Homo sapiens: one gene and its partners. The protein of the gene in region 3 interacts with the protein of the main gene of each other region in a pairwise test. Each region holds a gene or a part of one and is shown on either strand. Other genes may lie near its edges.

Region 1 (7,633 bases), on a different chromosome or scaffold from region 3:
GCTTACTGAACTTGGGCTGGAGGCAGGAGGCTCTACTGAGTTTACTGTTACATCTGCAGAGCGGGCACAGGGGTACCACCCAAGAGGTTCTCAGAAACAGGGCCCCACTGTGCAGCCTGCCCCCACCCCAACTTTGTTCTAGAACAGTTGGTCCATGTGCCACCTACTATGATCTGAATGTCTGTGTCCCCTCCCCAAATTCCTATGTTGAAATCCTAACCCCCAAGATGATGGTATCAGGGCTGAGGCCTTTGGGAGGTGATTAGGTCATAAAGATGGAGGCCTCATGAATGGTATCAGTGTCCTTAGAAAAGTGGCCCCAGAGAGACCCTTCACCTCCTCCACCCTGTGAAGACACAGCAAGAAGGTGCCGTCTGTGAACCAGAAAGTGGACCCTCAACAGACACGGAATCTGCAACACCTTGATCTAGGATTTCCAGCCTCCAGAACAGTGAGAAACAGGCTCCTGCTGTTGACAAGCCTCCTGGTCTACCGTAGTTTATTACAGCAGCCCGAACAGACTAAGACACCGTCTCTGAGCACTTTGCCTGCAGTCATGGACAAAGCATGCCCAGCACAGGCCCTGACCAGGTGCCTCTCAGCCTCACGTGCTGTCCCTCTTGGAAAGAGCTCTCCTAGGGAGCAGGGACTCTGTCTTTCCTACTCACACACCCTCTACCCTCCATCCCCATCCACAAGTCACCCAGACAATGCCAGCCTGTTTTGTGCTCAGAATATCATGAGGACTTTGTCGGACAGTGGCAGAGTGCCACATCTCCCTGGTTCTAGAAAACATGATCCTACAAGAGGGTGGGGAAAAGAGCACATGCGGATCATTGTCCCTGGAGGCAGTGGGCACACGGAGCCCATGGCCCATCAAAGGACAGTGCCCTGGTGAGCAGCCACCACTTCAGATTTTCCAGTTTGTGGATTTTGTGCAGTAGACACAGAGCCTGCCTGCTGGAATCAAGAGGCCTAGTCACCAGCCATGTGGCCTGCGCACATTACCTCCCATTCCTAGCCTGTATGTTGGGTGACACCCACCAGCAAGCCTCTGTGGGATTAAATGAAGCCATGCAGGCAAAGTGCCTGTGGCAGTGCTGGGACTCAGCAAGCCCTCAGTAACAGGTTCCCCTCCTGCGCTGACGCCATGGCAGCTGTGGCTGCCATTCCCCCATCCGCCAGCAGGTGCCCTCACTGCTTCATGCCTTCTATGGAACCCAGGGCTGTGGGTGACTGTGTCTGTGAGAAAAATAAAATCCCTAGGGGGAAGTGCGCGTTCAGGGTAGCTCTCTGAACTCATGTCGGCACCCGGCCTCGCCATCCATAAATGGGGATGATGACCCCCACTTCCTTGTGTTCCCAGAGGTGAAGGTCCCAAGCCCTGTCCACCAGGGCAGGTGCCTGGGGCCACACCTGAGATGACCATGAAGACTGGATTTGGGAGGCTGCCGATGTCTGCATGGAGCTGGCATTTGACTGGCAATTGCCCATCTTGAGCAGGGTTTTCATCGAGGGCTCGGAGCTTTAGAGGTGCAGCGTCACTCAGGTTCAAGGTGCTCAGCAACTCTGTGCCCTTGGGCAGCTACTTAACACTTCTGAGCCTCTGTTAGCTCATCAGTAAAATGGGAGTCATCTTACCTACCTCAAAAACCAATGCACCTACTGTTACGGATGGGCAACTCCTGCCCATTAATCTTTCCCTGAACACGTCCCTCTCCCCACAATCTCCTCCCTCCCCCTGAACACACACAAACTGGAGGTGGTAACCTCTTCCTTCCCCAGGCTGGCTCTGCAATGGCAACTTTCCAATTCCTACTTTGTGGAAACCCACCCAAGGCCACGTTATTAATATTTGACAGAAGCCCCAGACCCACCCTCTTATTCACACCCACTGGGAAGACCAAGGATACTCACTGAGTTATTATTGGCTGAAATTATTTTTTCATATCCTGCTGGAAACCAAAATATGGTCCTGGGCTTCTGATAAGTATCAACCACCTCATTCACCAGCAGGTGGCCCAGAGCACCTGCAGAAGCTGTGCTGGGGAATGAAGACAGGCCCATCTTTACTTACCAATGCCTCTCTCTTACCAATGTCTCTCTCTCTCACCAATGCCTCTGTTTTACAAATGCCTCCTCTCACCAACGCCTCTCTCTCTCTCTCTCACACACCAGTGCCTCTCTCTCACCAGTGCCTCTCTCTGTCTCACCAACGCCTCTCTCTCACCAATGCCTCTCTATTTACCAATGTCTCTCTATTACCAGTGCCTCACTCCTCACCAGTGCTTCTTACATCCAAACAGGGCACTTCCATGTCCTCCTCTGGTGGTCAAGCACAGACAAAGCTGGAGTCATCCACCATTGGCTAAGGTTTAATGAGCACTCACCAGAGGCTGGGCTCTGCTTGGGTGCTGAGCATATGCTAGGGTGGGGAAGGAGAGGGGCAGATGGGGGTGGCTGGAGGATGCCCTGCCGAGGGTAGAGTCTGGTCAGGAAGATGAACGTCGAGCGGAGAACTCCAGGTGGGAGGAGGGGGTCACAGAGATAGGGACAAACCCCCTTGACCCTGGCCGGGCTGCCTTCCTCATCCTCTGAAGCCTCTTTCAGAGATTGCTGCCCCTCTGCCTTATCAAAGGAGGGCTGGGACTGCTGAGCTCCACTGAGTTGCCCCTGGGAGCGAGCTTTCCCCAAAGGCTCAGGCCCAAGTAGGAATGAGTTAGCAACAAAGGCTTGAAATAAGTAGGAAATCACCAAACCAAACCACAAACAAAAGCCCTCCAGGCCAGGTAAGGACATTATTAGGAGTTGATAGGATCTTCTTGTTCTTAATTAGTATGTGCTGATAGGAAATCTCCAAGCAGCTTTCGCTGGACTGCCTGAGGGTCATCTCACCTCTCTTCAGGCTGCGGCTTCCTGTGGCCACCTTGCTTTAAGGCTTGTTCCCAGGACGGTCTCCTGGGGAGGAAGAAGATGTCCTCTCAGAGGCCAGCAGGTCCAACTAACGAGCTATGAGATGCCCAAGGTGGATGAGGACCTGGGCTCCTAAAGTCCCACAGCCCATTGTGTCCAGAGAGATGCTGCCCTGGGGACCCGACACAATGGCACCTTGGTTGCAGCCGTCCGGGCTGGCAGCTCACAGAGGCACAGTGGGGTTTTCTCATTTCAAATGCCTGGCCCCTTTCCAGAGGCACTTAGAATGGCCAGCTGATGGGCGTGCTACTTTTGCTTTGGAAAATGCGTCCACGAATATACTTCTCTCCCTAGGGACTGGGAAGGAGGAAGAATTGTGCAGCAGGGAGAGGTGAAGGCCCCACTGGAGAGAAGGGGAGCCCCTTGTCCTGCCTGCAGCAGCTGCCAATGGAAAGAAAGAAGAGTTGGGAGTCTAAGCTGGAGGTTGCGGGGCCAATTCCCTTTTGGCAGGCGAGAATCCGGACTCGGGCGGATTTCAGGCTTCAGTGTTTGTAGGAGGAAACACAGCAATCACACTATTAATAGTAAATTAAAATAAATGGGCAACTGCTGCATGGTAATACTTTTTTTTTTAAGGCAAAAAATAAAAAATAGTGAAACAGAGAAACAAAACATGAAACACCGGCAGTCAACAGGCAGGCAAAGAACCTGGGGGTGGGGGTAGCAGCGGTCCCACCCTCAAAAGGCCCGGGCTGCCCAGACCAAGAGAAAGCGATGAATCTCTTCTGGTAACGTCCCTTCCTGTCGCATGGATTCAAGGCCGACCTGCCCCAGCACCACCACCAGCAGCCTTCTGCTGGGGCCGGCACAGCTGGGAGCAACCTCCTACTCTCAGGCAGACGCGCAGCACCAAGCAGAGAGGCCCGGTGCAGGATCCCAGCGCCGAACCAGCGCCGGCTCAGTGGACGCGGAAGGGGCCGGCGGCCGCGGCCGGTCCCATCCCCCACTGCAGACCCCCAGCCTGTGGCGGTGGTCCAGTTCCGCCAGGAAACCGCCGCCTGGAGCTGTGGGTCGCGCACATTAACGCATCCAGCGGAAAAATGAAGGAGACCCAAATTCAAAGTTAAAGTAATGGTGACCCGAGAGGTGCCTTGATGAGAAGGTTTGGGGTCCCGGTTACTGATGGTTATCATTCTTACGAGATGCTGGTCACCTACGAAGGGAGAAAGGCACGAGGAGCGCCTGACCAAAGTGGTTTTGCCCTGCTTCCCGCAAGAGGTGGCACCCACGGCTGGAACGCAGGAGTCAGACCCACAGTCCCCAGCTCTGGACGCCCGCAGCGGGGCCTCGAAGAGGTTCAGGGCGGTGCCCGCGGCGCTCGGGCCGGGTCTCCCGGGGCGTGGGGCGGGGGGCGGGGTTGGGCGGCGGCCGGGGCTCCTCCCTCTTCTGCCCCGGGCTCCCCTGCTCTTAACCCGCGCGCGGGGGCGCCCAGGCCACTGGGCTCCGCGGAGCCAGCGAGAGGTCTGCGCGGAGTCTGAGCGGCGCTCGTCCCGTCCCAAGGCCGACGCCAGCACGCCGTCATGGCCCCCGCAGCGGCGACGGGGGGCAGCACCCTGCCCAGTGGCTTCTCGGTCTTCACCACCTTGCCCGACTTGCTCTTCATCTTTGAGTTTGTGAGTGGCTCCTGGCCGGGGAAGGGACGGGGTGGGCTGAGCCGTGCGCTCTCTCGGGCGCCCAGCACAGCTGTCGGACGGGATCCGCTAGCTGCGCAGGTTCTGGGAGCATCGGGGCAGCAGGCGCAGGGCGGGGACTAAGCCAGGGAAGTCCCCTCCCACCTCCGGTCCTTTGTGCCCTTCTAGACCAACAGAATGAGGGGAACAGTCTACAGGACTATGGAGGAAAAACTGGGTTCCCAACTGGGGTCAGATGTAGGCAGCGGGGCAGGGGGGGACGGCTCTTGGTTCGCTGGTCCCAAAGCTGCGCGCGGGGCCCACTTGACGCGCGCAGCGCCACCGAAGCTCCCGCCGCGCTTTGCGCGGTTGGGTAGAAGTGCGCAGCTTTTACAAGGGAGAAGGTTTCGTTAAAAAAGAAAAAAAAATCAGCAAGAGAAACATTAGTATTACCAACCGAGATTTGGAGATGAGAGGGAGCTGAATCCGGTTTATTTTCTTCTGGCCTTTTAAAGTTTCTGGCGAGGGAACGTATTTGCGACCAATTCGATCTGGAAATGAGGCCATCGTTTGCTTGGCCGCAGTCCTTCTGCCCCGTGTGCGGGGTGGGGGTGGAGGAGATGGGGGGTGGGGGGTGGGGGGTGGCGGCGAGAGCGATCCGCGCGCCTCGACTGACCTTGGGCAGGCCCGGGGCCTCTGCACCTGCGGTCGGTCCCGCCTTGCACGCACGGTCTCTGCCTGAGGCTGCAGGAAAGCGCTTCCTACTGAGAACTCCTGATAAGCGCTCACGGTGTCGCGAAGCCGAAGTGACCTCCCTCAGCCTCAACTCCCCGGGGGCCGCTGGCCTTCACCTGGGAGGGGTGTGCCCTGTATGTCCTGTGGGTGCGGTCCGTCACCGCCTGAGGGACACCTTTTCCGGCACCCCACCCTCAGAAGTGTCAGCGTGGAGAGTTGGGCGGGAAAGAAAATGTCGGAGCCTGGCTGTTTAAAAATTGGACCCCAGGTTGTTATTGCCTGATTGGAGGGGGAGGGTGTGAATACCAAAGGGAGCAGGTCAGTTCATCCAAAGAGGGCTTGCGGGCAGAGGCTAAGAGGGCTGCGGCGGCCTGGGAGCAGGGCTACCATTGAACTTAGGGTGAAAGTCCAGTCGAACCCAAACCTGGGTGGAACCGGTGACTTGAAATCCTAGGGATAGGCGGAATCAAAGCAGTTACATTTAGAAGAAACCCTGGACGCCAATGAACGCAGCCCCACCGTTTACAGAGAGCCAGCCCCCCGCTGGCCTCCTTTTAGAAGTTCAGCATACAAGAAGGAGTGCCCCTGAGAGTAGGAACAGTCCAGTTAGACGGGGCGATCTGATCTGCGGGAAAGGTGACCGGAGACTCCCACCCAACCCGCCAATGCTGCAGAAATTACAGGGGCGTGGGAAACCTTGGAACCATCTACTACTGGCAGCTTGCTCTTCCAGCGTGGCTTTGTGGCCTGCCGGTAGCGGGGCTTCCAGAAGAAACAACTCCCCCTCGCCCAGAACGCTTCTCTCAGCTGACTTAGAAAGTCACTTCTCCACCTCACCCCTGTTCCCCACCTCCCTTCCTCACTTCCCAGGAGACCCGCAATGCATAGTCATCTCCAGGCATCTTCCACATGCTCTAGATTAGGGGTGGGCTCGCAGGTGCCTGGGAGAGAAGAGGAGAAAGCTGACCCCAAGCCTCTCAGTTCTCCTCTGCATGGACTGTAAATACGAAGCTGTATATATTTGATGTGTGGAAGGAGTGGAGAATTAAAGGGCCTGAGAAGGCGCTGGCCACCCCGGGAGAGTTTTTGTTTTTGTTTTTGTTTTTGCTTTTGAGACGGAGTCTCGCTCTGTCGCCCAGGCTGGAGTGCAGTGGCGCGATCTTGGCTCACTGCAGGCTCCGCCTCCCGGGTTCACGCCATTCTCCTGCCTCAGCCTCCCAGCTACTCGAGAGGTTTTTTTAATTATGGAATATTACAACTCGACAACAAAAAGACAACCCAATTAGAAAATGGACAATGGACTTGAACAGAGGTTTCTACAAAGAAGATACACAAATGGCCAATATGCACATAAAAAGATGCTTAACATCATCAGGCATTAGGAAAACTAAATTGAAACCACAATGAGGCCAGTTGCGGTGACTCACGCCTGTAATCCCAGCACTTTGGGAGGCTGAGGTGGGTGGATCACCTGAGGTCAGGAGTTCGAGACCAGACTGACCAACATGGTGAAACCCCATCTCTACTAAAAATACAAAAAAAAAAAAAAAAAAAAAAAACCCGGCTTGGGTGGCTCATGCCTGTAGTCCCAGCTACTCAGCAGGCTAAGGCATGAGCATCGCTTGAACCTGGGAGGCAGAGGTTGCAGTAAGCCGAGATCATGCCGCTGCACTCCAGCCTGGGCAACAGAGTGAGACTCGGTCTCAAAAAAATAAATTAATAAGTAAATAAATTAAATAAATAGAAAGAAAGAAATCACAATGAGATACCACTTCACACCCATTAGGATGGCTACTATCCAAAAAACGGAAAACATCAAGTATTGGATGTGGAGAAATTGGAACCCTTGGTATGCCACTGGCGGGAATGTGAAATGGTTCAGCCACTGTGGAAAACAGTTTGGTGTTCCCTCAAAAAATTACCCTCTGACCCAGCAATTCCACTCCTGGGTATATAACCAAAGGATTCCAAGCAGGGACTTTAGTATTGGCACATGCATGTTCATAGCAGCAGTCTTCACAATAACACACAGCCCAGTGGCCATCAGCAATGAACTGAATAACAAAGTGCGACATATCCAAACAATGGATACTACCTGACCATAGAAAGGAATGAAGTACTGATACGTGCTACAAAGTTGATAAACCTTGAAAACTCTATGCTAAGCAAAAGACACAAGGCACAAAATGTCATATAGTGTATGATTCCGTTTATATAAAATACTGGAATAGATAAATCCATAGAGACAGAACACAAACCCTGGTGGTTTGCCAGGGACCAAGGGGAGCAATTGTTTAATCGCTATGTGGTTTCTT
Region 2 (7,709 bases), on a different chromosome or scaffold from region 3:
TGTATATTACAACATACTGCTATTATTCATTAACTGTAAGACATCTATAATGAAACTGAAAGAAGAAAATGCCAATTTAATTCCCCCAAAGCAAAGGACTGCTCTTACTCTGGATAAAAGTCAATGAACTTACAAAGTTTTCTTTTAGTCAAAGTAATTGCTGGTTCTAGCTACATCAAAACTGCTGAGGAAGCAGTAACTTGCTCCTTTGCCTCCTATGGCCAACACTGAAATGCAAAATCGTAAAAACATACAAAATAAATTCTTGACTTTTAAACAGTCTGTTAATTTATTTTCTTTCATGAATTCAAGAGGTTTTTTGTGTTTGTTTTTAAAGAAATGGGGCCTCACTATATTGCCCAGACTGGAGTGCAGCAGCTACTGACAGGCACAATCATAGCAAACTACAGCCCAAACTCCTGGGCTCAAGTGATCCTCCTGCCTCAGCGTCCCAAGTGGATGGGACTACAGGCACACACCACAATGCCTGGCTCTCAATCCAGGAGTTTTATCATGCAAATATGTCAGATATAAATAACACAGTTAGAATTTATCATTCTCTTTCACTGAATCTATCCTGGAGGAAATGGTTACTATCTTTATAGGAAAAGAAAAGAAACAAAATGGAAACTACTTAAATTTTTGTGGATTATTAACTTTTGTAAAACTACAAATGTTGATTTAAAAAATACTGGAGAAGATGAAGAAACTGGTTCAATTCTGAGCTCTTGATATCATAGCAAACAATACAGCAGCATGGTTAAGAGCTCCAAGTTTGAGCCAGACCCAGGTTTGAATCCTATCTATACCAATGACTAACTGTATGACCTTGGGCAAATTATTTAACCTCAGCATATCTTCATTTCCTCACCTGTAAAACGGGCATTGTAATAGCACCTACTCCAGAGTGTAAGAATTAGATGAGTGACTCTATATAGTGCTTAGAACAGTATCTAGCCTATAAAGTAATATATAAAAGTTAGCTATTACTATGAATATTAATAGTTCAAGCAAATCTGTACAGTAAAAGATTTGAAACATGGCCTAGAAATGCTCTCTGAAATAAAGTCATATTCACTTTACAAATAGAAAAGTATATTTAGGCTGGGTGTGGTGACTCACGCTTGTAATCCCAGCACTTTGGGGGGCCGAGGCGGGTAGATCACTTGAGGTCAGGAGTTTGAGACCAGCCTGGCCAACATGGGGAAACCCTGTCTCTACTAAAAATACAAAATTAGCCAAGTGTGGTGGTGGATGGCTGTAATCCCAGCTACTTGGGAGATTGAGACAGGAGAATCACTTGAACCCAGGAGGCAGAGGTTGCCGTGGGCCAAGACTATACCACTGCACTCTAGCCTGGACGACAGGGCGAAACTCCATCTTAAAAAAAAAAGAAAAGTATATTTAAATGAGTAATGCTGTTGAAATAGAAAGATGAAATTCACAATCAAGAAATTTATCAATATTTACTAGTTCTTTAAATATTAAGATACAATTGGCTGGGAGCGGTGGTTCATGCCTGTAATCCCAACACTTTGGGAGGCCAAGGTGGGTAGATCGTCTGAGATCAGGACTTCAAGACCAGCTTGGCCAACATGGTGAAACCCTGTCTCTACTAAAAATACAAAAAATTAGCTGGGAGTCGTGGCAGGCGGCTATAATCCCAGCTATTCGGGAAGCTGAGGCAGGAGAATCGCTTGAACCCGGGAGGCAGAGGTTGCAGTGAGCCGAGACTGTGCCATTGCACTCCAGCCTGGGCGACAAGAGTGAAACTCCAACTCAAAAAAAAAAAAAAAAATACACTCAACAATAGTAAAGCCTTTACAAACAATATTTCCCTACATACCTTACAGAAATGGCAATTTATCCCTATTTTCACTATAGAAACTGTAAAGCTCATGGATCACTTCAACTGCTAAAGTAAATAAGCAGGAAGCCATTAACCTGAGGCTATCTCCCTACTCTGAGTTCCTGTGTGACCCCAACCCACCCCCCGGAACCTAACTTACGTAAACGAACTGAAACCTAGGGTTATATTTTTTAATAAATAGCTGAATTTTAGTCAATCACAAACGGCTAAGCTTTAGCCAATCCCAAGCAGCCAACTGATGAGACCATGCACAAATAAGACAAACATATAGCTACAGACAATCTAAAAATTTCTTGTCTTTGCCTTGTGTTCAGCCTACAGCTGCTCATGCTGCTGGGTGAAGCTCTCCGAACCTCTTCTTGGTTTGCTCAAATTGCTAATTTATCTAAAGTTTTTCTTTAACATAACTATGGAGACCTTTTAAGAAAATCAGTGACAGCAGCCCACCCTTCTTACAGTCAGGGATAAAATGAGTTTAAAACACACTTTCCGGCTGGGCACAGTGGCTCACGCCTGTAATACCAGCACTTTGGGAGGCTGAGGTGGGTGGATCACCTGAGGTCAGGAATTCGAGACCAGCCTGACCAATATGGTGAAACCCCATCTCTACTAAAAATACAAAAATTATCTGGGCGTGGTGGCATGCACCTGCAGTCCCAGCTACTTAGGAGGCTGAGAAAGGAGAATTGCTTGAACCTGGGAGGCAGAGGTTGCAGTGAGCCGAGATCACGCCACTGCACTCCAGCCTGGGCGACAGAGCAAGGTTCTGTCTCAAAAAAACACTTTCCTATAAGATTCCATGTGTATGAAATAGATACAGACAGAAAGTACATTAGTGGCTGCCTAGGGCTAGGGGAAGGAGTAATGGGGAGTGACTGCTAATGGGTATGGCAGTGATAAAAATATTCTCAAATTGGATTGTGATGATGGTAGCATAATTCTGTGAAAATACTAAAAACACTGAACTGCATATTTTAAATGGCTGAATTATATGGTATGCAAATTATATCTCAATGAAGCTATCTTTAAAAAAGCATTTTCCTTCAGATATGCTTCATACCAGAATTATGTGCTCTAGTAGTATTTTTAATTAACTAAAAAACACATTTTAGATACAGTTGGTGACCAATGTTATTTAAGCCAACCACTGTCCTCTTGTAATCTGACTTATTTTGTATCAAGTGAAAGACAAAAGAAAAACAAAAGTATTCCAAAGATCTTATACTGATCAAACTATGAGACTTAAATGATACTATCAAAAGTATTCAAAAACCAGCTGTGAGTCAGGACAAGGAGATGTGACAGTTAAGCAAAGAAGGCTGACAAAGAGATTCCAGAGGTAGAGGAGTCAGAGGATGAATAAATTGCGTTCTCTGAAACTGACTCCTGTCTTAGGAGCAAAGGAAGAGGGCCAGTGAAACAGTCTTCCGACGCTTCCAGAGACATTTCTGAAACTGGGTTCTATTTTTCATCACTACTGTGAATGAAAAGCTATGGCACCTGGCAGAGCCACAGATTTCAGCATGGTGTAATAAGAGCTCATCCCACTCCATCAGCTGTTTCTGTATGAAGAGTATACATATGTGTTCAGTCTTGCCCTTAAAAAACTCCCCCTGTACCCATGACTTAAAAATTACAGGATTGGCTGGGCATGGTGGCTCACACCTGTAATCCCAGCACTTTGGGAGACCAAGATGGGTGGATCACTTGAGGTCAGGAGTTTGAGACCAGCCTGGCCAACATGGTGAAACCCTGTCTCTACTAAAAAAATACAAAAATTAGCTGGGTGTGGTGGCGTGCACCTGTAATCCCAGCTACTTGGGAGGCTGAGACAGGCAAATTACTTGAACCTGTGAGGCGGAGGTTGCAGTGAGCCGAGATCACACCACTGCACTCCATCCTGGGTGACAGAGTGAGACTCCGTCTCAAAAAAAAAAAAAAAAATTACAGGATTAGGTTGGAGAGAGAAGGTGTCAATGAAACGAAAGATTATCTACTGGCAATCCATAGATTATCAGATAAGGGGTCTATACCCCTTATCTGAAATCCCTGGGGCAAGATATATTTTGGGATTCAGAATTCTTCAGGTTTAAGAACAGTAAGGGAAAGCACATATACTACATAGCACCGCCAGCTGGGTATAGACAAGCACATCCTATAATCTAATATATCTATTTTCATTCCTACAATAAAACATTTGAATACTTACACTAAATGGGATAAAGAAAATAGTGAGCTCCATGTCAGTTTAGGTCAGGTTTTGCTGCCAGACTAGTTATAAATAACTTGATTTTCAGCATTTTGTGGATTTTAGAATTGTATATAAGGGAGTGTACACCTGTACTGGTTTCTCACTTTTTCTACTGCAACTCCCAGTAAATGGGCCTCTAGCATAAAATCCTGGCTGTCTAAGGTAAAGAAGGAAAGCAGAAAGTCTGGAGACAGCTGAGAGGTACCAGCTTTGTCAGTGGCTTGGATTTCCTAACCAGGGCTATCCTACTGCACTAAGTGTTCCCACTGACAAGTTTTATTAAACTCATGTATCTTCACACAGAGCAGTATCTTCAATCTAAGTGAACAATTATACTAAGTTGTACTCAAGGTAGAGTAAGCCAAATATAAAAGACATATCTGAATCTCTCCTATAAAATACAAGAAGAATATATACTTACTTTGGGTAACATATGCACCAAAAAGAATCCACATGGAAGCAATAAGTGACCCAAACATCAACATGAAACCAATGAAAAGCCAAACTCGAGCACCTGTGTAGAGAAGAGGCTTTATGATTTTGTTCATTTTTGCAGCTCTGTAACGTCTTAGGAATACATAATACTAGGAGCCCTGTTAGCCTAGTATATATTATGCATATCAAAGATAGTCATATATTTATATAAATCTGCTGTAAGTTAAATGAATGATGATTTAAAAAAAAAACACTAAAAGAAGTTAAACCATACATGGAAAAGGAAAAAAAGAAAGTTACCTTTTTACTGACTAGAGAAACGAATGCCCTAATTAAAAAATTACACTGTTGTATATATTACCAAAATAATTGCTCTATTAAAAGTAGCACATGTATTCTGGATAGCCATCACCACATAGGAATGAGAGACTTCAAATGAAGAAGGACTAATATGTCCCTTTTTAATCAATGGTAAGCTTCTATAATCACACCATTATTCAATATGGTACAAATAACGGCCATTCTTTAGGAGTATATTCAGGCTTTTTTATTGCTGAGGCAGCCAATCTGTACCACATATTCATGAAAACTTCAAGATCAGAAGTATCTCTTCAACCCTGTATTGAACAAAATTCTAGATCTCGATAATGTAAATCATCTGGACACTTGAGTAGATTCAACATATTTTTAGGAAAGCAGGTTAATACTTGCACCAGATCCTGTTCACAGGTATACTGACAGCCCCATCAACCTCTGGAAGGGGAAGAAAGCTCCACTGAAGTAAAAATAAAATCCTAGCCAATTTCCATAACAGAAAACTAAATTTGCCTCAGTTGCAAATATTTTGTTACCAGGGAAAAGATTCATTTTAGACACCAGATAAGGAAGAAGCACTGATCAAAGTTCATAATGGTTAGAACAGCTGATATCTGAGAGAAATAGGTCTCTATATTATCTAAATTTTATTACAATACTAAGCAGATCTCCAGAAATAAACAGTAATGTTTAGTTCTTTGGAGAAATACAATCTCTAAATTATATTCAATCATAGCTTTTATCTAACGTGAATAAAAGGAACTATTAAAAATCCTTAAAGGCGGGGCATGGTAGCTCACACCTGTAATCCTAGAAATTTGGGAGGCCAAGGTGGGCTAATTGCCTGAGCTCAGGAGTTCGAGACCAGCCTGGGCAACATGGTAAAACCCTATCTCTACTAAAAGAAAAAAAAATCAGTCGGGCTTGGTGGCGGGTGCCTGTAGTCCCAGCTATTCAAGAGGCTGAGGCAAGAGAATTGCTTGAACCTGAGAGGCAGAGGTTGCAGTGAGCCAAGATCATGCCACTACACTCTAGCCTGCGCAACAAAGCAAAACTGTTTCAAAAAAAAAAAAATCCTTACAATTATTTTCCATCATGTCCTTTATTTATGGCTATATACATTAAACTTTCTAATAGAATTAAACAAGAAAAAAATTTCTCTTGTAAAGTAAGTATGTCTGAGGGCATATTAACAAAAAGAGAAAAAAAAGAAAAAGAAGTATGCTTTTGTTTAGCAAAAAAATAAAACTGTAACATTTTCTCTTGTTTGCTTTGGCTACAAGGAAGCTCTGAGTTAAGGTTAATGAACAATTAAAAGCATCCATCTTGTCCCAGGTTCTAAGTACAATGATCATTTTTCTACCTAGTTCCTGTTCTTTTTTATAGTTTTATTATTTAGCTGTTTCATTTATAGTATATTTATTATTTTGATACTTTCCTATTAATTCCTCCGGGAACTAAATAGAGATAGTTTACAGATAAACCACTTAAGCAGTACAAAAGCTTAAGAGTAGCAATACCTGGGCATGACTATAAGACAGTTTGTCCTTAATTTTTGAAACACTAAACAGAAATTGCACTATATGCACAATATAAAAATATAAACTGTACTGTTAATTTTAATAGAATAGGGAATATCATAGAATAAAATATAATAATCACTTAGGGTAAAAACGACGGGCTTGGGAACCAGACAGACCAAAGACAAATACAGGTTCCACTTTTAAGCTAAAAAACTTTGGATAAGTTACAGTGAAACTTCCTATAAAAAACAGATAATAGTGGCCAGGCACAGTGGCTTACACCGGTAATCCCAGCTACTCTGGAGGCTGAGAGGGGAGGATTGCTTGAGCCCAGGAGTTCAAGGCTTTTCTGCGTCATGATCATGCCACTGCACTCTAGCCTGGGAGACAGAGCAAGACCTCGTCTCAAAAAAAGATAATAGTAACATAATTCACAGCAATGTCCGTGGAATATTCTTGAAAGAAAAATGATGGAGTACATTATTGTATGCTCTACATACAACATCTTCACTTGCTAATATATATTTTTTCTTTACCTTCCCTCATTCCTGACATTACTGCTGAGGCTGACATACAGGATATGATGAAAAGTAAGCGCGATCGCATGCGCATACACACACATATTGTGCACTTTAAACTTAGGCTCATCTGTCATTTGTCATTATACCCTCTCGCAAATTCTCCATGGATTCCAGTAGAAGTGAGGTTACAAAATCTACATCAGCATTTAAAGCATCAGGTAGAAGGCTGGGCATGGTGGTTCATGCCTGTAATCCCAGCACTTTGGGAGGCCAAGGCGGGTGCATCACCTGAGGTCAGGAGTTTGAGAACAGCCTGGCCAACATGGTGAAACCCAGTTTCTACCAAAAATACAAAAACTAGCCAGGCGTGGTGGCAGGCACCTGTAATCCCAGCTACTCAGGAGGCTGAGGCAGAAGAATTGCTTGAGCCTGGGAGGCGGAGGATGCAATGAGCTGAGATCGCACCACTGTACTCCAGTCTGGGTGACAGAGCGAGACTCCGTCTCAAACAAAATAAATACAAAATTTAAAAAATAAAACATCAAGTAGAAAAGAAAGCTAAGCTCTTCAAAGCTGCTTTATTTGGTTTAAAAGGCTATGATACTTACTATATGATCCCATTTATATGAAATCATAGAAAAGGCAAAGCAACCATCATAGAAAGTAGATCAGTAGTGGCCACGAGGTGAGGGGAAGAGTATTAACTATAAAAAGGGGTATGAGGGAACTTTTTGGGGCAATGGAAATGTTCTGTATCATGATTGTAGTGGTAGTTACACAACTGTAACTGTACA
Region 3 (8,676 bases):
AATTCCTGATCTCTCTGTCCCTTGGGATATTGCCATTGTCCTCCTAATTCCTGCCCAGTTGAATTCTACACCACTGCTCTTTTTTTATCCTGTTAGTGTGACAATGACTATACAAAGGAAGAAGGGGAAAAGCGAGGGGGCCAGTGGGACAGAGAGTCTTATTTATCGAATAGCTACTAGATGCCACTCAGACTGCTAACAAGTTTTTTTTTTTTGTTTTTTTTTTTTTTTTTTTTGAGTCTTGCTCTGTCACCCAGGCTGGAGTGCAGTGGCGTGATCTTGGCTCACTGCAACCTCTACCTCCCGGGTTCAAGCAATTCTCCTGCCTCAGCCTCCCGAGTAGCTGGGACTACAGGCACGTGCCACCACGCCTGGTTAATTTTTGTATTTTTAGTAGACACAGGGTTTCACCATGTTGGCCAGGCTAGTCTCGAACACCTGACCTCAAGTGACCCACCCACCTCCGCCTCCCAAAGTGCTGTTGGGATTACAGGTGTGAGCCACCGCGCCCGGCCATGAACTCTTAATATTTCATAACATTTAATCACAATAACCCTCTTGGTGGGTATATTTAACCTTATCTTGAAAGGTTAAGGGACTAAGGCACAGGGTTTTAAGTAATGTGACCAGGCCAGGCGTGGTGGCTCACGCCTGTAATCCCAGCACTTTGGGAGGCCAAGGTGGGCAGATCATGAGGTCAGGAGTTCGAGACCAGCCTGGCCAACATGGTGAAATCCCGTCTCTACGAAAAATACAAAAATTAGCCCGGCGTGGTGATGTGCGCCTGTAATCCCAGCTACTCTGGAGGTTGAGGCAGGAGAATTGCTTAAACCCGGGCAGTGGAGGTTGCAGTGAGCCGAGATCATGCCACTGCACTCCAGCCTAGGCGAGCAAGACTCCATCTTGGAAAAAAAAAAAAGTGACCAAATGTACACACCTATTGATGCAGACAGAATTCAAATCAAACTCTATCATAGATATGTGTTGGATGAATTAATAGCACTGGGGACAAGTTTGCTCTAACAATTCCTTGACATTGCTATGAAGTCCCTTCTACTCCCTTTACAGAAAACAAAAAAACAAACAAAACTGTCCACTCTTTCTTCTACCTGATTTTTTAGTTGACTTCCTCTTTCAAAAACCCATTCAAGGCTGGGTGCAGTGGCTCACACCTGCAATCCCACCACTTTGGGAGGCCGAGGTGGGTGGATCACTTGAGGTCAGGAGTTCGAGATCAGCCTGACCAACATGGTGAAACCCCATCTCTACTAAAAAAATACAAAATTAGCCAGGCGTGGTGGTGCATGCCTGCAATCCCTGCTACTTGGGAGGCTGAGGCAAGAGAATCGCTTGAACCCAGGAGGCGGAGGTTGCAGTCAGCCAAGATCGTGCCACTGCACTCCAGCCTGGGTAACAAGGGCAAAACTCCGTTTAAAAACAACAACAACAACAACAACAAACCATTTAAGTAAACTCAATTCTAGAAGTTGCTTCTGTCTTCTAATAACCTGAGTGATCTGATATTTCAGGAAAGCAACCACAAAGGCCCTAGAAAAGAAACAGATTTGTAACTATTGGGAGTTTATGGCGGGTAGTGAAGGGGTAAGGAGACACACATTCTCAAGACCTATCAGTTGGAAAGGATCTGTAAAAGGATTAATGGCCAGCCTTTGCAGGTAACATTTGAGAAACCCGTGTTTGTGTTTTCATTGGAAAGAAATGGCCACTAACGATGAAAAAGCGTGTGTTTCCTCTACGCAACCATGGTACTTTCTTTCACTTTCTTCACTAAAGGTAAGAGAAGCCTAAAGTGCTCAGCAGAGAAAATGCTACTTTTCAGGCTTGTTGCAAAGAGAAAAGAAAGGAAAAATGAAGGGAAGACAAGGCAAAGGGAGTGAAGAGGAAGCAAAAAGAAAATATAAGAAAAAATGGATTTTCAGATACCACTTTAACTGTTCTATTAGCAAAAAAAAAAAAAAAACAAACCATACAGCCCACTCTGTACGGGGGCCATACGGGAATCTGAGACTATCCAGTTTTCTTCATTTGCTCTCCTTCTTGCTAGATGGCATAGCTCTATAAACTTCCCTGTGACAATTGTTTAGAATCCCTCAGTCCAGTGACCCTTTTCTCCACTAATGGATTACTCAGAGACTTCTGATTCATTGTGGGGCCCAAAATATTTTAAAAGAGCCCTGCCTCTCTTATTTCTAGACTAGAGGCACCTAAACTGCTAGAACAGGATTAGAAATTCCTGGATGGGAAATTCCGTTTAGGGGAATTACACACCTAGTTTTCATAATTTGTTTGGAATTTTGAGGGATGGGTGATAAGATGCTAAAAGAGATAAAATACTTCAGCGGCACTTCTAAAGTGCCACGGCAATCCTGCTCGTTTCCATGCTCACTCTAATTTCTGTCCCCCTTTTCATTGTCATTGCCATCAGTCACACATGCATCTATGCAATCTCGTAATACTAAGGAAACTTTGTAGTTTATTCATTTCCCTATGACCCCCTGGGTTCTGTATATGTCTCCCCACCCCGCAGTTCATTTCCTTTCAGACTCTTCTGAGAGTTGATTAATCTGGGGAAAAATACTCTTTCTGCCTTTTCACCACTGAACTCACCAGGATGAAATACAGCAGGGCTGAGGCCGCCACGACATGAACTCGGACTCCCATCGGGCTGAATTCCTGCTTCTTCAGAATCTTGCACTGGGCATCCGTTGCCTCCTTTCAATGCTCTGTGCCATATTTTACTTCTTGACCTAGAATTCTTAAGAAGAGAAACTTTTCTCAGGAATTTATCAGCTTTTCTCTCTCTCGTTCTCTCTGTCTCCTCCTACTCGCTCTGGCTGTTATTTTCTATGGCTTTTCCCTCTTCTTTCCTGTTTTTCTTCTTTATTCTTATTACTATTTCTATGGCCTCCACATTTACTTCCTTTTGCCTTCTTTCTTTCCGTTACACTATTAATTCTTTCTACATCTTGAAGTTTCTTTCTCCTACTGCTCCCAAAAAGGAGACATTCAAAGAGGACATATGTGTCCTCTGAATGAAGTATTTTTCTAGACAGCGATGAAAAACTTGGCTTTGAGGATGGTCAAAGGCAGATTGCTGGTGACCAAATATATTCCTTTCTTCATCAGAAAACTGGTAATATTCTTGATCCTTCACCAGAGTACTCCAGCGTGACTGTTGCAGGGTGAAAGTCACCCTGCTAATCTCCTTTCTTCTCTCTCCGTGTGACTAACAACCCCTTCTTGCTCTTTGAAACCCTCCCCTTCACTATGTTGATAATCAACTCTCCTGGTTCTGGGTCATTTATATCCCTAAGCATTGGGGTAAGACTGAGAGGTTGCCAAGTGAACAGGAAAGCCATCTCATCTTTGGAGAAAACAGACTTGAAGATGAGAAATCAAGTCGGAAGATTAGAATTTTCAGGTGTTATCAGTGACATCTTCCTCCTCCCTGACTTCACTTCCCATTGAAATAGATAACTGAGAAAGACATTTTTTTAAAACCAAATTTTAAAAAAGCAAATGTATAGGTTTCTTTCTTTCTTGCCTTTTCTTTGTTCCTTCTTTCTCTCTCTTTCTCTCTCTCTCTCTCTCTTTGGTTAAGGAGTGATGTGATTGAGAAATAAGTCTTGTCACTCAGGAAAATAAAACCTAAGGTTAGAGTAAAAACAAGCACACATGCAAAAGCATAGAATACTTTTTTTTTTTTTTTTTTTGAGACGGAGTCTTGCTCTGTCACCCAGGCTGGAGTGCAGTGGCGCAATCTCGGCTCACTGCAAACTCTGCCTCCTGGGTTCATGCCATTCTCCTGCCTCAGCCTCCCGAGTAGCTGGGAATACTGGCGCCCACCACCACGCCCGGCTAAGTTTTTTTGTATTTTTAGTAGAGACGAGACGGGGTTTCACCATGTTAACCAGAATGGTCTCGATCTCCTGACCTCATGATCCGCCCGACTCGGCCTCCCAAAGTGCTGGGATTACAGGCGTGAGCCACCGTGCCTGGCCTAGAATACTTACAATGAAACAAAGCTATAGACACAAATGTGGCCGGGTGCCATGGCTCATGCCTGTAATCCCAGCACTTTGGGAGGCCAAGGCGGGCTGATAACTTCGGCCAGGAGTTTGAGACCAGCCTGGAGAACATGATGAAACCCTTTCTCTACGAAACATACAAAAATTAGCTGTGTGTCATGGCAGGCACCTGTAATCCCAACTACTTGGGAGGCTGAAGCAGGAGGGCCACTTGAACCCGGAAGGCAGAAGTTGCAGTGAGCCGAGATCACACCACTGCACTCCAGCCTGGGTGATAGAGCGAGAATCTGCCTCAAAAAAGCAAAATATTAAAAGAAACAAAAGAATGCTGTATGAATGATTTATACTTAAGTAGGTGATCTTTTACTTAATACCAAATGTTTAATAAAAAAATTATTATTATTATTATTATTATTATTATTATTATTATTATTATTATTTGAGACAGAGTCTCTCTGTCACCAGGCTGGAGGGCAGTGGTGCAATCTCGGCTCACTGCAACCTCTGCCTCCTGGGTTCAAGCAATTCTCCTGCCTCAGCCTCCTGAGTAGCTGGGATTATAGACACCTGCCACGACACCCAGCTAACTTTTCTATTTTCAGTAGAGACAAGGTTTTACCATATTGGCCAGGCTGGGATAAGAAAAGTAGAAGTTAGTTTACAGTGATATATCTATCTCATAAGAATTGAATAAAACCTCCTTTCAGGACCTTTCTAGCTCAGTAAATCTAATTATGCTGAGTGATTGTGGAAGGGAGACTCTTGGGTGAGCTGATCATACTCTAAGGGTCCTCACACATAGCTTGATGATGGGATATGAGAATGCAGGATATAAACTGGTTTTGTTCTCAGCTAAGGAAAACAAATAATGAGAAAATGGCCTGGTACCATACTGGTGATTTAAAATCTGTCAGTTTCAAGACGAAATGAGCACTGACAGTCTTTTATTTTTTATTTTTTTAAATTAGGCAACTGGGGTTAGGATGAAGGGTGATTTCCAGATTTCAGTAGAAGACTTGGCAAGGTGGAAGGTATTTTATAGGACAAGGAGAGCAGGGCTTTAGGTGGCCTTCCACTAAATTATTATGTAATTCCTCCAGTCCTTAACGTTCCCATTCATACAACAGGAGCAGAATACCCACTTGACCTGCTTTAGATGTTATTTCCTAGAGAAAATAAAATAAGAGACAGGAAAGCATTTTGAATAGGATATTTCTATCATGAGTGCCCTGTACGTAGGGAACCCATCATGAAACTTTCCCTTCTCTTTTTCTTGACAGAAAGACAGTAGAGCACCAAGACCTAAAGCCTAGCCAGGATACCTGGGTTTAAATACTTGGTTTTGTCACTTATGAGCTGTGTGATCTTGGAGCAGGTTATTAGACCTCTATTGGCTCATTTTCATTTTATATAAAATGGGGGTAATAGTAGTAATATTTACTTGATAGCCTTATACAGATTAAATAAGTTAATGTGTGTAAAATGAATATAACAGTCCTGATATTTTTTGTGTTTGCTAAGATTATTTTGATTTTCACTAAAGTTTACCAGTGACCTTTACTTTCAAGATTCTGGATAATTACTGTCCTTTATGCTTCTCTTGTATATTTTTATACCATTCCCTCTCCAGACCACATTTTAGTCTCCTGATATTCTAATTCTTGAATATTTTTCCTTGCTAGCCTGGCCACCTTTTCTCCCAACCACGCCAGCCTTCACCTGCCTAAACAGGTTTGCTGGTTAACATGACTCCCCGCTCGCATTGCACTTTTCTAACACGTAATTGCCATCATCTTTTTGCCCTCCAGCTTCCAAACAGGTTTGAACAAAATAGGTTCTGTTAATGACCTCCTTGTGACTTTCCTTTCTTAGAATTATTACTACCCTTTTTTTTTTTCTCACCAGATTAGTCCCTGGAAAGATAAAAGTTTGTTTTTATCCTAATGAATGAGATTATGCCTTGGGGCAGCTTTAACTCTGAATCCTGTCCCTAACCAAGCCTCCATATAGGGAATGATGAAAGAAGAAAGATAATTCAGACAAGAAGACTGAACGAAGTACACTTTGGACAGGTACAGAAGGGCAGGTAGCTGGGATAGAGGGAAATGGTCTCATTACAATCCTATACAATCTTGTGCAGTTCCATTAAGCTTGTGAATCATTAGCTTATGTCCAGGTAGTTAAGGACTTGGAGTGGAACCAGTAGAGGGTGCATGTACATAGAGTTTTACACCTATGCTTCAGGGAATTGTTATACAACTGGTGTAACAAGTGTAGCCAAACAAATTGCTTACTTCTGGTTCCACTGATCATTCTCCTTTTGACCTTGCCTAAGTCAGGTGGCCAACTATGGATTTCTTTCCTCTCTGTGCCTCAATAAAATAGAGGCCAGGACTCTGAGGCATCAACCTCAAACTATAAGTCAGTGGGTAGGGCCACAGCCCTGATTTCAAAAATAAATAATATAGCAGAAGAAGTTTCATCTTTGCAACCCTTGGGAGATCCCTTGGGAAGTGTTTCTGTCTGATAAGCCAAGATCACAGCATAGGGATTGAGTGACAGCTTCAAAGGCACTGAAATCAGTAAAAAGATTAGAGTTAAAAAAGTTAAACAAGACAGAAGGATTCAGTTTATCATAGAATGTTTTAGGTTGATATGCTGTGTAACACATCACCACAAATTATGTGAGCAGCAAGGTAAAACAATGTACTTTTATTATTTCAAAGTATCTGTGAGTCAGAAGTGTGGGCACAACTTAGTTGGGTCCTCTGCTTGATGTCTCACAAGGCTGCAGTCAAGGTGGCTGCTGGGTTGCACTCTCATCATGCATTCTCAGGTGAGCCTGGGAAGATTCACTTGCAAGCTCCCTCAGGCAGAATTTATTTCTCTATGGCTGCAGGATCCATTTAAGCTTGCTTTTAAAAATCTAGACAGGGAGATAAAGATGGAAATAGGAGAGGGAGAGTGACTTTAGCATAATAGTCACTATACCTTACATAAGCACACGTAGATGATCACATACATTCCAGCACCTCTGCTACACTCCAAGTCATAGGTCTCACTCACACTCAAGGGGAAGGATTACACAAGATCATGAACACCAGGAGGCAGGAATAATGAGAGCCCTCTAAAATTTTTCAAATCTGTCCAGTTATCTGCCACACAAGGACTGTAGAAACTATCCCACTGATCTTTAAAAACAGGATAAACCCAAACGTCCATCAATGGATAAATAAAATGTAGAATGTGGTTTATACATACAATGGAATATTATACAGACTTTAAAAGGAACAAAATTCTGACACATGCTACCACATTGATAATTGTTGAAGACATAATGCTAAATAAAATAATTTAGATACAAAAGGACAAATATTATATGATTCCACCAGTATGAGGTGCCTAAAATAAACCAATTTATAGAAACAAAAAAATGGAACGGTGGTTTCCAAGAAAGGAGAAAGGAATTGGGATTTGTATTAGGTCTGTGCAGAGAAAGAGGATCAATACGCTGTGTACATACATAGAAATAGGTTTATTATAAGGAATTGGCTTGTATGATTATAGAGCCTGGTAATTTAAAATCTGGAGTGTGGGCTGCCAGACTCGGCCAGCGAGTGGAGAACTGGGAGAGTTGATGGCTGAGTTCCAGTCCATAGACAGCTGGGGGATTCTTTCTTATTTGGGGGAAGGTTAGAAGCTTTTTGTTCTTTAGGCCTTCAACTTTTGGATGAGGCCCACCTACATTATGCAGCGAAATCTACTTTCCTCTTCTGATTAATATGTTAATCTCATTTAAAAGCATCCTGTCTGGGAACCCCATGACCCAGTCAAGAAGACACAGAAGGCCAGCACGGTGGCTCACGCTTGTAATCCCAGCACTGTGGGAGGCTGAGGCAGGCGGATCACTTGAGGACAGGAGTTCAAGACCAGCCTGGCCAACATGGTGAAACCCTGTCTCTACTGAAAATACAAAACAATTAGCCGGGAGGGGTGGCGGGCACCTGTAATCCCAGCTACTCAGGAGGCTGAGGCAGGAGAATTGCTTGAACCCAGGAGGCGGAGGTTGCAGTGAGCCGAGATCATGCCATTGCAATCCACCCTGGGTAACAAGGGTGAAACTCCATCTCAAAAACAAACAAACAAACAAACAAACAAAACACATGAAATTCACCATCACAGGAGTTATTGCTTGGTGGGTATAGAGTTTCAGTTGGGGAAGATGAAAAGTTCTGGAGATGGATGGTGGTGATGGCTGCACAACAATGTAAATGTACTTAATGCCACTGAACAGTACACCTAAAAATGGTTGAAATGGTAAACACTTTATGTTCTATAATATTCATGGCATCCAAAATAACTGAGTCACTGTAGAAATGATAATGTGCCCTTTTCAGTGTGATATCGTTTCAGTATTTTTTAATTCTTTTTTTTTTTTTTTTTTAAAGGGAGTCTCGCTCTGTTGCCCAGGCTGGAGTACAGTGGCACAATCTCAGCTCACTGAAAATGAAAAGCATTTTCATTTTCCACCTCCCAAATAGCTGGGATTATAGGCTTGCAACCAGGCCCAGCTAACTTTTGTATTTTTAGTGGTGACAGGGTTTCAACAGGTTGGCCAGGCTGGTCT
Region 4 (7,546 bases), on a different chromosome or scaffold from region 3:
GGCATCTCGCTGGGCTGAGAGATAAGCCGCAGCTGCACCGTGGAGTGGGGACTGGGTGAAACTCGGGCCTGAGGCGGGAGGAGCCATAATAACTCACTGGACATGGACTTCAGGCTTTCTGGGAATCGCCCCGCAACCAAACAAGGGCGCCACTGCCCGCTGTTGTCCTCACTGGACAGATGGGGAGACTGAGGCTCTGAGAGGTGAAACTAGGTGCTCTAGCCAGGAAGTAGGATTTAAGCCAGGCCTGGCTCCCCAGCAGCTGCTCCTAACTAGGGACTGTCAGGGCCTTGGGGTGTTTGGGGAAGCGGGGCATTGGGAGCCAGGCGGCAGGAGGCCCGCTTCCCAGGAGTGTCTCCGTAGACCGCTCAGAGCCTGCCCGGCCCTGCCAGGACATTGCAGACTTCAGGCTGAGGACTGAGCAGGTTCTTCAAGCTGCTTGGGGGTGGGGTGGTGTGTGGAGGAATTGACGTGAGGCTGGGACTGGGGGTAGAGGGGGACTCTACCTCCTGGCTGCAGCCCTAGCTCCATCTCTGTTCCCCCGAACCTCCTGCCCCTCATCCCACACCCATGCCCTTCCCGGTCCCAGCCCTGGCTCTGCCTAGCCGGGGTCCCCAGCCCAGCCCCTGACCCTACCCTAGGCCCAGCAGAGTTCCTGGTGACAGCAAACACTTTCTCTTTCCCAGGTAGACCTGCTCAGCATAAGGAACTCGTTTCTCTCTCCTTCCTGACCTGGCATCAGTCCTGCCCTCTCACCAGCCTGCAAGGCTGCACCAAGCCCTGGCCTCCGAGCATGCCCTCCCCTGCCCTGTCCCTGCCCTGTCCCTGCCCAAATGCTGAGTGCATAGTTATCATAATTGTTTTTTTTTTTTTTTTTTTTGAGGCGGAGTTTCACTCTGTCACCCAGGCTGGAGTGCAATGGCATAATCTCAGCTCACTGCAACCTCTGCCTCCTGGGTTCAAGTGATTCTCCTGCCTCAGCCTCCTGAGTAGCTGAGACTACAGGCGTGTGCCACCAGTCTCGGCTAATTTTTGCATTTTTGGTAGAGCCAGGGTTTCACTGTGTTGGCCAGGCTGGTCTCCAACTCCTGACCTCAGGTGATCCACCCACCCCGGCCTCCCTCAGTGCTGGGATTACAGGTGTGAGCCACCACGCCTGGCCTAGTTATAATTTTGATAGCGAGAGCTGGCACTTCCTCCACCTTGCCCTGGAGTGCACACTGACCTTGCCGTGTTCTCACTCACTTAACCCCCCAGCAATCCCCGACGTCGTCCACTATGTCCTCATTTCACGAACAGCAAAAATGCTGAGAGAGGGTGGTGCCCGCAACCAACGGTGCGGGTGGTCCTTGCAGGTTGGCACAGACTCCTCCCTCTGCCTGGCACCCCAGGGCCTGGGAATCCTCTCAGCTTCCCAGTTAATTCCACATGCTGAACTCACAATTTTAGTTGGAGCATCCATTTCTTTTCCTTTTTTTGCGGGAAGAAAGCCTGAGGCTTTGGGGAGCATTACTGAGGCCCAGGAAGTGTTTAGGATCCCCAAAAGTGTTGGGGGTTGGGGGAGCTGGCGTGGGTGGGTGGGCAGGATGGCATGTTGGATAGGGGCACAGGTTGTAGGTGGACTGCCTGTGGTCTGAAGCTGTCACCCATGACCATACGAGTCCTGGTAATAACAGCAGATGCTTATTGAGTGTCTACCCCATGGGGGCATTTTCTCAGCTTCCCACTTACTCGCTCAATCTCTGCAGCTTAATGCAGGGGGCACTATTATTAGCCCACATTGCAGTTGTAATCCTGTAACCCCTGCAAATTCATCTTAAAGCCCTATGCTCTGTCGCCATGGCTGTTGAGTCTCACCTCTTAAGCCTCTTTCCAGGGGCTCCTCCAAGCCACCTCTGGCCTGCAAGGCCCCACTATACCCCCTTCCCATGATGTCATCCAGCCAAGACTGACAGATGGTATCCTCCTCGCCCCAGCCTCTGCAAAACAACGTCCAGTCCCATGCTTCCGGAGGCTGCAGGGAGCCGGGAGCTGGGTCTGCCCTCACGTTCCCCATTCAGGCTGTTGTCTGAAGAGGCTGTGGGCTGCTCCCGAACTGATGTGGTTGGTGAGCAGGTTAGAGAGGAAGGCAGCCCTGCAGCTGATGCTCTGTCTACCTGCTCTCATCCTTCCTGGCCATGAGGTCCCAAGGCCGGCCTGAGGACTGTTTCCCCCACCTGCCCTCTGCTATCCCCTCTATTCCTCCATACCATGGGAGAATGGTCTCATGTTCAGGGGTGGGTAGAAAGATCCTGCCCGCTGTGTGCTCCTGAAATCTCCCAAGCAACTCCCCATTTAAAGCTTCCCCCAGCAGCTCCATCCTTTTTTCCTGGAGGTCTCCAGAATCCAGATCCCTCAATGTCTGGACACCCCGAGTCCACCCAGCACTCCTTATCCACCCAGATCCCTCAATGTCTGGACACCCCGAGTCCACCCAGCATTCCTCATCCACCCAGATGTCCCCAGTCCATCTACGCACCCCTGGTCCACTTAGATACCCCTACCTACCCAGGCACCCCCTCTCCTCCACCCAGCTATCCCCAACCCAGATATCCCTAATCCATGCAGACACTAGTCTTTCAGACACCCCAACCACACTTATCAGTCCTGCCCTCACCTCAGCTGGTTCAACAAGTCCCTGAGAGGAGAATGGTGGGGAAAGGGACATTAGGGGAAGGGACTTCCGTTTATCTCCTGGCTCCAGAAAAGCATTTCACAAGATTTTAGGCGCTTTAACATAAAAGCTTCTATGGGGCAGGGTCAGGGGGCAGGTAGATACTTCCTAATTTAGGGGCAGAGACAAGGAGGGCTTGGAGGAAGGGGCCCCAGCTGCTCACCTGTGTGGTTCACCAGGCTGAGCAGAGGTTCCGGGAGAAATCGGGCTGCCAGGCGGAGTCCTGCGTTTATCCGAAGCTGCCACGCCCTAAGCAAACCTGGGCAGGTAGAAAACAAGTCAGATGCCCTGAGGCCCAGGGGCTCCATTCCTGCTCTTAAAGAGACAGCTTCACCCCCTCCCCAGCCATGGGCGGCAGGTTGCTCCCTGGGGTCACCAGGACCACAGCAGCCTCAGGTGAGACGGAGAATTGGATGGGCTGGAACTCGGCCCCTGGAATTAAGGGAGGAGCTTTCTCCAATCTCCTGTGCCCAGGAGAGGACCTTGAATGGGGAAGGTTCTGGGGTCTTTAAACGGCAGAGCCTCCAGGGCCATGCAGTGAGATGATGCGTTGGTGTTCCGACCTCACTTCTTTTCCTTAGATGATGTGTTTTGCCTGGTGGAAGGATTGCTGGCAGTTGTGGAGAACTTAAAGTCCCCTTCCAGGCCACATCTTGCCGCTGGTACAATTTCAGGATCAGCAGAAGATGCTAGCGTGACCAAAGTCAGGAGATGGGGCAGGGGTGGATATGAGGGAGCGGCTGGAACAGCAGGGAGGGGTCAGGGTGGGGACTCTGGGACCTTAGTCCTGGTCATAACCTGCTCCCTGCCCTGGGGAGAATGAGAACTGTCTGCCAGGCACCAGGCTGCAGTTTCCTAGCCAGGCTCTTTCCGTGGGTGCTGGGAGCCAGACGCCTGGGTCTACAGAGTGGGTGCTGGTGGGGGCGGCTGCCTCCTAGTCCACATAAGGCCCCCAGCACTGTACAAGCCTCCCTCCCCCTTTCCTCCCCTGTCTCCTGCTCCTCCTCCTCCAGGCATTCCTTCCGGATGGGGTCTGTGCAGGCTCCCCCATGGTCCCAGTTGGGGGTGCCCCCTCCCCTCAATTCCGCCTTCTTAGACAGAGGGACTTTTGTCTGGGGGCTGGATGGAGAACAAGGATCCTTTGAGCGGTTGGCGGAGGATTGGGGTCACGGGGAGGGGTAGGGCCAGGAAAGGGGTAGCTCTGCCCTGGACACCAGCTGGACTCCAGGCGACCCCAACACCACCGTGGGGGCGGGGAGGAGGGCTGCAGGGCCTGGCCAGGGAGAAGCAGCTGCTGGGAGTGTGGAGCACAGGACAGGAAAAGGGGGTTTGGGTCAAGGCTCTTCCGGAAACTGGCCTGCTGGGGGCAGAGAGAAGGACCCCCCACTTGTCATCGCTGAGGGATCGGGGAGGGCAATGTTCGCCCAGCGCTACACCCCTTCTCTATGTGGTTCCCTGGGGCAAGTTGTCAAGCCCAGGTCCTAGACAAGGGTAAGGCTCCCTCCTACCACTCTTAAGGCGGGGCCAGTTCCCATAAGGAAGCCGGGCGGGGGGACCTCGGGGTAGGGCTCTAAGCAACAGGTCCAGGAGGAGATAGAAACAGGAAGGGGAGGCCCGGAGGCCAACTCAGTATAGCTAAGGGGGGTCTTTGTGTCTGGGCGGATAGCGTCTCTTCCCTAGACCCTTGAAGCTTGTGTCTGGGACGACCCCTTGGTGGTCTTGGGAGTGGAATGGTGTCTCCCTCTGCTGGGAAGCCTGGGAACTGCAGGCATCCGAGAGCGAGTAGGGGCGTGTACAGGGTGGCTGGGAAGGGCGGGGGGTGCTCTGCCCTTCACCGGAACGGGGTGAACTGGAGAACTGTTGTCTAAAAATCTTGGAGGAACACCCCTGCCCGTGGTTAGATACAGAAGTATTTCCCAGACAGCTTGCTAAGGGGAAAAAAAACAAGGTATTGGGAAACCGTGCAGTGTGCTACCATTTGTGAGCGGTAAAATAATGCATATGTATATACTTGTAATGAATAAAATATTTTTGGAGATTGGCATCCATACCCATGGCTTCTGGAGAGGGAAACTGGGAGGCTGGAGGGTGGGGTGGAAGTGAGACTCACTCATTATCACGTGCCCTCTTATATTTTTTGAATTTTGCATCTTGAAAATGTACTACCTTAAAGGGGTTTAATTTAAAAAATTTGGTTCAGATTTAAAAAAAAATTTGCAGGTCAAAATTTCAACCTAAGGGCTGGTTTCAACCTGGGGGACCAGCAATTAGAGACTTCTGACAACCTCTGAATGTTCTGTAGTTTTAAACACCATGATCTTACATTCTGAGGTACAGACGTTTACGGTTTTTACCCAATCCAGGTCAACCATAAATTCTTCCTAGGCTGGACGTGAACATGCTGCGTCCAAGTGTGTGTTGGGCTGGCGCTGGGGCTTGGGTTTATGGTCAGAAGGACTCTGAGACCCTAGTGTGATGAGCACACTGAGTCTTAGGAAGGGCTGTGAGGAGTAGAGTTTGTGCAGTCACTTGCACCCTATTGGGGATTAGGTCTCATTTGGAGTGAGTCTTCTGGGCCAATCTGACTTCAGTTATGTTTTAAATGCATGTAGGTAATATGTTTTATTAATATATTGTATATAATATACATAATAAACATATTTGAAAAAGTTTCTCTCGTTTTGCTTTTGGAATCATTTGGGCCCAAAGAACCTGTTAAGGCTGTGAGTGGCTGTGATTTCTCCATATCCTGGGAATTCTTGCAAAATGAAAAAAACCAAACCTACAGATAGTTTCTGACATCATAAGTTTTTCAGGAACGCTGAATTAAAGCACAGAATCAAAGCCAGAGCATGTTATACCATCCCTGATTCAAACTTTTATTGATTTTGTTTCAATAATTTCGTTGCTCTTTATTCAAGGCTGGGAGCGTTTCTGCAGGCTCCTGGCCCTAGAGAGGGCAGCCTGGAGGCACCCCCAGCCATGAGAGGGGTGCTGGTTGGGTGGGGCCTTGCCTTTGCAGGTAGAGCCTGAGCGGCCAGGCTGACCGGCTGGGAGGTGTGGTCACAGCGATACGCCAAGGTCCCACTTCCTGGGCAAGATGGGGCTAGAGAGGCCGGTGGACAGGGTAATGTGGCTTCCTGGGGCTTTGTGGAACAGCGCTGTGGTCTCAGCACCTGTGGGAGAAGAGTGGGCACTGGCAGGTAACCCTGTCCCACCACCATGGGGATGGTGTGGCTGTGGACGTATCACTGTCCGCCTGGCTTCCAGGAGCCATGTGAGGTGACACAGTGGCCAAGAGTCCACAGGCTCCCTGACACCTGCCTCTGTGCTGCTCTGACGTCATCACTCACCCACAGAAGCTAGAAATGGAGATTTTTATGATGAAATCTCCTGTTTTGTTTTGTTTTTTTTTTGAGATGGAATTTTGCTCTTGTCGCCCAGGCTGAAGTGCAGTGGCACGATCTCAGCTCACTGCAACCTCTGCCTTCCAGGTTCAAGCAATTCTCGTGCCTCAGCCTCTCGAGTAGGTGGGATTACAGGTGTGTGCCACCACGCCCGGCTAATTTTTGTATATTTAGTACAGACGGGGTTTCACCGTGCTGGCCAGGCTGGTTTCCAACTCCTGACCTCAAGTGATCCGCCTGCCTCAGCCTCCCAAAATGCTGGGATTACAGGCATGAGCCACCGAGCCCGGCCTTCCGGATTTTTTTTTTTTAAGGTGAGTTCTTGCTCTGTTGCCCAAGCTGGAGTGTAGTGGTCCAATCATGGCTCACTGCAGCCTCCAACTCCTGGGCTTAAGTGATTCTCCCACCTCAGCCTCCCCTGTAGCTGGGACTACAAATGCACGTCACCACACCTGGCTAATTTTTTAATTTTTTTAGAGACGGGGGTCTCGCTATGTTGCCCAACCTGGTCTTGAACTCTGGGTCTCAAGTGATCCTCCCACCTTGGCTTCCCGAAGCGCAGGGATTATAGGTGCAAGCCACTGCACCCGGCCCTGATTTTTAAATGTTGGTAACTTCGTTTTCTTAACACTTTGTAGACAGAATGAAAAATATCCAGTGGTTGGATAAGGCCCTGGGGCCACCGGTTGGAGACCCCCATCTTACAGACTAGGGAAACTCAGGGGAGGTTCAGGGTTCCCCCTAACCCCTGTTGTCACTCACTCTGCTCCGGCCACCTGGGCCTCCTTGCCGTTCCTGGATCACTCCAGGCATGTTTCTGGCCAAGAGCCCTTGCAATGCCTATTCCCTTGCCTGGCTCTCTTTTCTCCCGCATCTGGACAGCTCAAAGCCATGAGGTTCAAGTGGCTTTCCCCGACCACCATCGCACCTACCCCCTGACCTCTCTATGACCTTTTGACTTCTGTTTGCTTTTTTTTTTTTTTTTTTGTGGTGCTATCTGCCTCCCCTGCTAGCACGTCAGCTCCTCTCAGGGATTTTCATCTGAATTATAGAACAGGGCCTGGTGCATAGTGGGTGGTCACGAAGTATCTGTTAATTACCAGGCTGGGCACCATGGCTCACGCCTGTAATCCCAGCACTCTGGGGGGCCGAGGCTGGAGGATCCTTTGAGTCCAGGAGTTCAAGACCAGCCTGGGCAATATAGAGAGATCTTGTCTCTACAAAAATAAAAATAAAAGTAGGTTTAAAACAATTATAAAAGAAAGGCTTTCTCCACCGCCACCCCCCATCCACGGAGGCCTTGCAGGAGGAGCTGAGGTGGGGGTGCTGAGGGTGGAGCTGCTGATGGGGGCAGGGGGTGTGGAGGAATGAATGTCTTGGCCAGCTTCCCCATCATGTGGGGAGTGGGGGCGGCGTGGTGGGGGTG

Evidence for each region.
Region 1: the proteins of TMEM52B (region 3) and MAL interact in binary tests that used the Homo sapiens proteins (3 or more experiments, as listed by UniProt).
Region 2: the proteins of TMEM52B (region 3) and TMEM50B interact in binary tests that used the Homo sapiens proteins (3 or more experiments, as listed by UniProt).
Region 4: the proteins of TMEM52B (region 3) and FXYD3 interact in binary tests that used the Homo sapiens proteins (3 or more experiments, as listed by UniProt).

The regions. Positions count from the first base shown.
Region 1 is NC_000002.12:95,021,300-95,028,932, forward strand, and holds the start of MAL (myelin and lymphocyte protein), read left to right. Parts: upstream 1-4,408; 5' UTR 4,409-4,493; coding exon 4,494-4,586; intron 4,587-5,040; exon of another isoform or gene 5,041-5,134; intron 5,135-5,259; exon of another isoform or gene 5,260-5,730; intron 5,731-7,633. UniProt on the Homo sapiens protein: May be involved in vesicular trafficking from the Golgi apparatus to the cell membrane. Plays a role in the maintenance of the myelin sheath, and in axon-glia and glia-glia interactions.
Region 2 is NC_000021.9:33,455,871-33,463,579, forward strand, and holds part of TMEM50B (transmembrane protein 50B), read right to left. Parts: intron 4,636-7,709; coding exon 4,543-4,635; intron 228-4,542; coding exon of another isoform or gene 145-227; exon of another isoform or gene 134-144; intron 1-133.
Region 3 is NC_000012.12:10,173,581-10,182,256, reverse strand, and holds the start of TMEM52B (transmembrane protein 52B isoform 2 precursor), read right to left. Parts: upstream 3,226-8,676; 5' UTR 2,683-3,225; coding exon 2,629-2,682; intron 1-2,628.
Region 4 is NC_000019.10:35,111,690-35,119,235, reverse strand, and holds the start of FXYD3 (FXYD domain-containing ion transport regulator 3 isoform 1 precursor), read right to left. Parts: upstream 3,414-7,546; 5' UTR 3,277-3,413; exon of another isoform or gene 3,196-3,276; intron 2,973-3,195; 5' UTR 2,877-2,972; intron 1,980-2,876; exon of another isoform or gene 1,931-1,979; coding exon of another isoform or gene 1,858-1,930; intron 1,237-1,857; exon of another isoform or gene 1,112-1,236; intron 747-1,111; exon of another isoform or gene 637-746; intron 69-636; coding exon of another isoform or gene 1-68. UniProt on the Homo sapiens protein: Associates with and regulates the activity of the sodium/potassium-transporting ATPase (NKA) which transports Na(+) out of the cell and K(+) into the cell.